Linked DNA regions of Homo sapiens: all the other regions are linked to region 3. Evidence: fine-mapped expression QTL. A gene starts in region 3. Each other region holds a variant in brackets. All regions are shown on one strand. Distances are from middle to middle.

Region 1 (2,817 bases), 55 kb before region 3:
AAGATTAGAGCATATTAATATAAAATACATAGAGCCACTTTAAGATATTGCTTATTATAAGTGAGAATATTCAACAGTTCGTTCTACTGTTCTCAGCATTGTAGCCTATATTTAAAAATTGGCTTTAAAAACAATAGTAGCCAACAAATACAGGTAAGTTTGAATGCATGTTTTTAAGTCAAGCAAAAATAATGAGTGCAAAAGAGAAGGTATCCTTTTGAGGCAGACAAAATAGTATTTTAAGATAAGCCTTAGTTAAAAATCATGATATCAAACTGGTCATTTTTCAATGCCAAAAAGAAAGGCTGCGTCAAGTTGTCTAAACAATCACATATCTGCAAATACTCCCGAAGGACAGAGACCTGGGATGCTGCTAAACATCCTACAATACATAGGACAGTCCCCCAAGGATAGCGGCAACAGGTCTAAACTGTGAATGGTGCAAAGGTGGAGAAAATTTGGTCTAGAAGAACATGCAAATCCAAAATAACAAGGCTTTCCTATTAGAAGTTATTTTCCCAACAACTTTAAAGTGCTTACAAATTCAGAAGGTGTAATCTACTTTCATTTTGGATTCATTTGATTTAAAATCATTAAAAATCTGTTAGGAAAAAAACCCCACGTCTGCTAAGACCAACTGAAAACCAAATTAGTGCCTTTAAGTGATTCAACAATTCAAAGCTATTAGATCTTTTTTTTCTTTTTTTTTTTTTGAGACGGAGTCTCACTCTGTCGCCAGGCTGGAGTGCAGTAGCACCATCTCGGCTTGCTGCAACCTCTGCCTGCTGGGTTCAAGTGATTCTCGTGCCTTAGCCTCCCGAGTAGCTGGGATTACAGGCACACGCCACCACATCCAGCTAATTTTTGTATTTTTAGTAGAGATGGAGTTTCATTTCACCATGTTGGCCAGGATGGTCTCAATCTCCTGACCTCATGATCTGCCCGCCTCGGCCTCTCAAAGTGCTGGGATTACAGGCGTGAGCCACTATGCCCGGCCGCTACTAGATCTTAATACGTCCTGGTGGTTTTCTAAAACTTAATCAGTTTCAGAGTTG[G/T]TTGTTTCATCTTTATTTTAGAAATAAAACAAAAAAAGAAAAAGGTACCGTGCTTTAAAAGAACAAGTGCACATAGTGGTTTCAGAGAATTATCTAAAAGAAAGGGCATTAGTAGAAAATTATGACAATTTACTGTGACCTTAGGCCCTGACCAGAGCTTTGAGGGGGGCAGAGTCCATGCAGGACAATATGCTGTTCCCATCCTGCCTGCACAAACCACCTGTTCAGTCTTCAAGAACCCAGTGCAGCCTCTTTCTCTTTGAAAACTTCCCCCATGTCTCTGACCCACACAGACTTTTCCTGTTTCCAACTGCCAACTCTATACACACACGCTGCTTCCAAAATGTGACTATAAATGCTTGAGGGCAGGGTCTACATCTCCTCCACGTTTTGCACACTCACTCAACAACTACTATAATTGAAGGAAACTTAGCATGAGAATTCACTTGACAGCTTTGGGAAGATTTCCCACTTGCTCTAAAATATGTTTAAAAAAGAAGTGAACAAAAGCAAAAATCAAAAAATAAATGCAAAAACCCACCATGAATGAAAATGTTCTATGGATACAAAATGATTTAGAGGGATCTGAAAATAAGGACTGATGATCTGATTTATCAAAAGCTGAATTCTGTGTCCGTCATACACAAAAATTATACAGATAAATTAGAGAGTAATTAATCAGATTATTAAAGGACCCACCTCAAGGTATTTCAAATTAGAAAGTCTCTTACAGAAAAGACTGATTTATAAGACTACAGTCAAAAGATTTTATGAATTCAAATCCATTATCTTACAAATGAAACTATTTTCAAGTCCTACACTCCTGCCTCAGTTAATAAAACAAAAACAAAAAACTTCAGGTTTTGTTCTAAACAGGATGACAAAGGCCTAGTTGTGTATATACAACAATGTGCAAAGACACATTTCTGTGCCTAGAGTGACTCCTGTGAATAATCATACTGCTGAAAATGTTTCCCTATATATCCCAAGATATTGCCTCATATGGCTCATTCCTTAAGCAGCCCCCTAAGTGCCAAGTAATCACTAAGGGTAAAAAGGTGAATAGGGCAGTACCTGTCCTGAGATACCCGTGGCCTAGTGAGAATCTGTAGGGCAGAGCTGAGCTGAGCCCTAGGTGGCTCCAGGGCCACAGGCCATGGCAAAGGCCTCCTGGGGGAACCTGCGAGGGCAAAGTGGTTCAACAGTTCAAGTCTTGAAGTCCAATGTCTAACAGCCCTCTCCTCTGACATGCGACGTACACCCCTAATGCAACACATCCGAAACTGAGCTCTGGGTCTCCTTCCAAAAGACACTTGCTTCTGCCACTGAAGCTCTGAGTGTGGTTAATTCCATCACTTCTATCTTCACCAGAAAGGTCCACCTCCCCTTTCATTCTCCTCTTCCTCCTCCTGAATAGCTTGTAAGTCACCAAGTGATGTTGAGTGTTTCTCTCAGATGCTTCTGGAACCATTTCCATCGTTGGCATCCCACTGCCAAGCAACTTTTGCATGGGAACGTCTTACTGGGCTATGGCAGCAGCAGCTGAACTGGTTTTCCTACCACACCTTTCCCTAGTATGTTCCTTAGAAGCAGATCAGACTGTGTCCTTCCACGGCCTACAGGAAAAAATCTAGTATTCTTAACAGAGACGTTTCTCAACCTGGCCTCAACCTGTCTTTACAATCTCATCCTCACCAAAATCCCTGCCTGTGCTAGAAACCATTGCCTTGGTTCCCTGAAAACACCATTTATGTTCAGGCCT
Region 2 (2,854 bases), 230 kb before region 3:
CTAAAAATACAAAATTAGCAGGGCATGGTGGCGCATGCCTGTAATCCCAGCTACTCAGGAGGCTGAGGCAGGAGAATCACTTGAACCTGGGAGAACGGAGGTTGTGGTGAGCCAAGATCGCGCCATTGCACTCCAACCTGGGCAACAAGAGTGAAACTCCGTCTCAAAAAAAAAAAAAAGAAGATTTCTCTCTCTTATCAGGGGTGCTTTTTGGTGGATAGGGTCTTCCTCAGTCTGCGCTTTCCTGAGATGACCACATAAAGAACTCTCCATGACCACATATGGATGTGGTGGGTGATTGATTGAGTGTCACTGTGTTTATTGCGGTGGAATTTTATTTTTATGACCCCACCTGGCGTCAGGACTCTTCTTCCTCTATTTTTAAAAAGTCACCCAATGTGAGGTCCAGCAACAGTTTGGAGCAAGGCCTTTAAGAAATTTATCCTATAACCCTATAGCCACATAAATAAGTGATACAAGATCAGGTACAATGGCTCATGCCTGTAATCCCAGCATTTTGGGAGGCCAAGGCCAGAGAATTGCTTAAGCCCAGGGGTTTGAGACCAGCCCAAGCAACATGGTGAAACAGCATGAAAAAATACAAAAATTATCTGGATGTGGTGGTGTACACCTGTAGTCCCAGCTACTTGGGAGGCTGAAGCAGGAGATTCACTTGAGCCCAGGAGGCTGCAATGAGCCATGATCATGCCACTGCACTCCTGCCTGGGTGGCAGAGTGAGACTCTGTCTCAAAATAATAATAACAATAATAACTGATTCAAGATCCCCAAAAAAGACACAGTAAAGGAGGAAACTGTTAACAATTCAAATTGCTTTTGCAATAATTTCTTTTTGACCTATGCTAAAATTTTAAGCTCCTTCAATCTGAGTAAATCTTCCCCTGCAAAACACACCCCATTTGATTCTTTAAAACATGGTAAGAGTAGTGAGGAAGGCAAGTCCTCAGATCTTAGCAATTTTCCCCCAGCCCCATGTTAACAATGAGAAGCTATTTGTTGCTATGTAATAAGGACCATATTTTAATCCTCTTCCTGTGTGAAATGACATCCTGAGATGAAACTTGCATAATTAGAAGGACAAAAGAATGAATTGACTAGGGGAGGAAAAAAAACCCTGTAGATTCAGGGAAATTCCAAAGGTTGAATAATGAGTCATTGAATATTTACATGATCAAGGTACAATTAGACTTCATCTATTCAGAACATTAGAGTACAGTACAGTCTT[T/C]GGCAACATTCGACCATAGTAAATAAATATGGATTAAATTGATTGAATCATTCTGAATAGCTGGATTCTCTGCACAGCTAAAGGTTAATTTTGTTATATAACCTCAGAGCCTTATTTTTTCCACCAGTTTGAATAGAAACATTCTTAAAATGTAATATATTACTCCTTGCTTTAAAAAATAAAGTACAGTGGATATAATTTGTCTTAAATTATAGATATCAGTTATTAGTAGCATGTGACACCCTGAGGGCCCAAATTATTTGCTCTTTTGAAAAATGGACTCATATTGATTTGTATTTTGAATTTCTTTCCAATTTTTCTTAGCTTTCCTACTTTATCCCTCCTAGAAGTGTGCTGTCTTCTTTAGTACTCTTGTCAGTCAGCATATGAAACTGTTCCCCTCACTCCCCTTTGTCCTTTATTATAGACGCCATTCCAGGTAATTAATCTGGCTGAGTAGAGTTTAGCACCACCTAAGGCACAACATTTAAGAAGGCACTGACTTTCTGGGTCACCAAAATGCAGGTTCAGCCCCTTAAGTGACCTCCTTAAATTTTGCTCCTCAGGCACCCTGCTTACCTTTCCCAAGTCCCAGGCCCTGGGTTTACTGAGGAGCTAGGGCCTTCTTCCATGAGGAAAACACAGAAACTCTTAGTGCCTGGAACGTAGGAGCTTGAGATAAATGCAGAGGCCCTTCAGAGGCCCTTTTATTTGGGTGGTCAGAAGCTGTTAGGTAAGTTGCTAGATAGCTGAATTCTGCATAGGGTAGGTGTTACTAGACACTATTGCCCTTTTGTCTCTATTATGGTGCACTTAGGAAAATGAGTTATTGCTTCAAAATCAATGTAAGGTTTTTATTTTGACTGATTCATTCATTTTATCAAAGCTGCAGATGTATATGATATATATGACCTGAGTTTGTTTTAAAAATAACATGCACAAAATCTTTTTCCAAAGAGATTTGCAATAAATTCAAAACCAGTGGTTCAAACCTTTTGGTCTCAGATCCCTTTGCACCCTTAACAATTATTGAATAAACTAAAGATCATTTGTTTATGTGCATAACTAGTGTATTATACACACTAACTTTAATTTGGAATACAGTAAATATTGTATTAGTGTGTCATATATTTACTGAATTAAAAATTAAAATTGGTTGGGCATGGTGGCTCATGCCTATAAACTCAGCACTCAGGGAAGCAGAGGCAGGTGGATCACCTGAGGTCAGGAGTTTGAGACCAGCCTGGCCAACATGGTGAAACCTTGTCTCTACTAAAAATACAAAAAATTAGCTGAGCGTGGTGGTGGACCCGTGTAATTCCAGCTACTCAGGAGGCTGAGGCAGGAGAATCTCTTGAACCTGGGAGGCAGAGGTTGTACTGAGCCGAGATCATGCCATTGCCCTCCAGCCTGGGCAACAAGAGCAAAACTGTGTCTCAAAATAAATAAATAAAAGTAAAATTGATAACGTTTAAAATACAAGAATACAGCCAAGTGTGGTGACTTATGCCTGTAATCCAAGCACTTTGGAAGGCTGAGGCGGGCAGATCACTTGAGCCCAGGAGTTCGAGACCAGCCTGAGAAACATGGCGAAACTTCGTCTCTACTAA
Region 3 (2,500 bases):
AAACAAACACTTGCACTGCATTCTCTGGCAGTACCTGGCACTGTGCTTGGGCCAGGGTTACAGTATTTACAGACAGCACCTTCTCTTACGGAGCTTACAATCCAGCATGGGTAAAGACTTCAAGCAAATGTATACTGTGGCATTTCTAAAAACTACTCTGTTAAATTTTAAAACCTTTTGTAACCTCCTACCAAAAAAAAAAAAAAAAAAGAAAAAGAAAAAAACTAAAACTAAGGAACAGATTTCAAACCACTTAAAAATACAGCTTTCCTCCCCGTTGCTAAAAGTGGCTTTCTTGGGCCAGGTGCGGTAGCTCATGCCTGTAACCCCAGCACTTTAGAAAGCCAAGAAGGGAGGATCACTTGAGCCCAGGACTTCCAGACCAACCTGGGCAACATAGGGAGACCTCCGTCTCTATTTTTAAAAAACGGTGGGCGAGGGAGCAATATCTAAAATCACATACATGCCTTTTTCCAGTTCTGACTTGCTCATAGTCTCTGCACACGTTTATGATAAAGAATACTGTATTTGGCCGGGAGCGGTGGCTCACGCCTGTAATCCCAGCACTCGGGGACGCCGAGACAGGGCGATCGCCTGAGCTCAGGAGTTCGAGACCAGCCTGGGCAACATGGCAAAACCCCGTCTCTAATAATGAAAAAATACATACTGTATCGGGGCATCGCGGGGCACGGCGAGGGCAGTGCAGGGTCGAGGCGCCCGGTCCAGGCTGCGGCGCCGCTACTCACCTCTCCGAACTGGAAGGCGGAGACGATGGTGACAACGACGCCCAAGAAGCACACGTAGAGCCCATACCTGTGGGACAGGCAGGTATAGGTCTGTCTCTGCAGGAGCTTGAACAGCATCACCCCTTCACCGCCACGCCACGCCCCGAGGAGCCTGAGCCGCCGCCGCCGCCGCCGCCGCCTCAGCGAGCCGCCATTCAGGGGCCCCGGTCGGGCCGCCGCGCGCAGGTCACAGCCTCCGGGCGCCGCTCATTGCAGCTCCGGCGACGGACGCCCGCTCGGCTCCGCGCCGCGGCCGCCGCTTCCGGGAGCCGGGAGCCCACGCCCTCGGCGCGGCGGAGGCGGACCTGCGGCCGGCGAGGCGGCCGGCGCCGCCCGGGTCTGGCCGGGCGAGAGGCGGCTGCGGCGGCGGCGGGGTCTCCAGCGCCACCTGGAGGACGGAGGGGCATAGGGAAGGTGCGCGCCCTCCCCACCTGCGCTTGCGCAGCGGGCCCTGAGGGCTGGGCTGGGAGGGGCGGAGCTGAGCTGGGATCCACTTACCCGGTTGGGCAGGCGACCAAGAGAAAACTGCCCCCTGCGTCGAGACTGTGCCATAGACGGTACTATAATGCCATGAATATTTTTGTGCATAAAACCTTCTCTGCACTTAGCATTCTCTGCAGAGTGCTAAAAGGAGATGCTGTATGTGGCTCCTTTCCTCCAACCCCCAACTATATTGTTTGAAAGAGGAAACCTTTGGGTTAAATCTGCCAAAACCGAATTTCGTTCATTCATTTAGTCGTTAAATATGTAATTTGTGCCTGTTAGGTGGCATAGTGCTTGGTGTCAGGTATTCAAAAATGAACTAGACCTGGCTACTGTTCTCAGAGAGTCTAGTGGGGGAGATAAACATGTAAACCACTAAATACAAGAGTTGTTATGATAGAAATCATGCGATGAACTGGAGGGGAACCAGCTCAGGGGTGGCCAGGTAATCCGACTTTGACAGCAGGTTTTTCCCACGAGATCCTTTCCTTGGTGCCTCTGATTTACGAAAGGGAGATCTTTTTCTTAATCCCAATGCACCCTAGTCAATAAGATTTTTTTCCTAGTCACCCTGGGAAACAATACACTTATCTAATGTTGCCATCATTCAAAGCATTTTTAAAAATATCTTGGGAACCAGCTTCAGGAAATACTCAAATTCGCACCCTCAGTTTGATGGTCAGGTGGAATTAACAGACTTGCAAAAGGGGTTAGCTTCACTCCAATCCAAGGCAAGATTTTTTACACTTTGCAGTCACTTCTTTTAATCCTTCTTTTAAAAAAGATGATTGATATATGCTATATGTACATGGCAAAAGATTATTGCAGTTGTACAAGACACATATAGTTCTGAGGTCTTTTCAAGCATGATAACAGATCTGAGGACTTAATCAGAAGGGGTAAAAAAGCATGGTAACAGATATAAAAACATCTGCCACTCAACAGGACTCTCAGGATAATGGCCAACATTTATGTAGCATCTGCCATGTGCCCAGCTCATCTAATCCTCACAATAATCTTATAATGGAGATACCATTATTATCCCCATTCTACAGATCAAGAAACTGTGATGAAAAAAAGTAACTATCTAACATCACACAAATAGTAAATGACAGAATTGAGATTTGAACCAGGTACTTAGGCTGTAGAACAGGGCCAAGATTAGGGGAAGGTACTGTGAAATGAGTCATGCAAGTTTGGAGTGAGATTCTGTCTTTGTTTATAGTTTTGAT

The links. PIP is the estimated chance that this variant, and not a neighbour inherited with it, causes the effect.
Region 1: its variant is the best candidate, but not a certain one, in a credible set for the expression of GNPTAB in nucleus accumbens (GTEx, PIP 0.54).
Region 2: its variant is the best candidate, but not a certain one, in a credible set for the expression of GNPTAB in esophagus mucosa (GTEx, PIP 0.56).

Annotation. Positions count from the first base shown.
Region 1 is chr12:101,774,666-101,777,482 of GRCh38, forward strand. The region is part of intron 7 of GNPTAB (N-acetylglucosamine-1-phosphate transferase subunits alpha and beta); the gene reads right to left. Among named protein-coding and RNA genes, the nearest start is that of SYCP3, 37 kb to the left of the region's middle. The variant G/T (reference allele first, on the strand shown) is at 1,056.
Region 2 is chr12:101,603,181-101,606,034 of GRCh38, forward strand. All of the region lies in intron 1 of MYBPC1 (myosin binding protein C1), which reads left to right. The region is part of intron 3 of LOC105369938 (a long non-coding RNA gene); the gene reads right to left. Among named protein-coding and RNA genes, the nearest start is that of MYBPC1, 9.6 kb to the left of the region's middle. The variant T/C (reference allele first, on the strand shown) is at 1,245.
Region 3 is chr12:101,829,813-101,832,312 of GRCh38, forward strand. GNPTAB (N-acetylglucosamine-1-phosphate transferase subunits alpha and beta) reads right to left here and starts at 1,147. Exons shown (of 21, transcript NM_024312.5): 1 at 747-1,147. The coding sequence starts at 863. RefSeq lists silencers at 279-573, 930-1,329.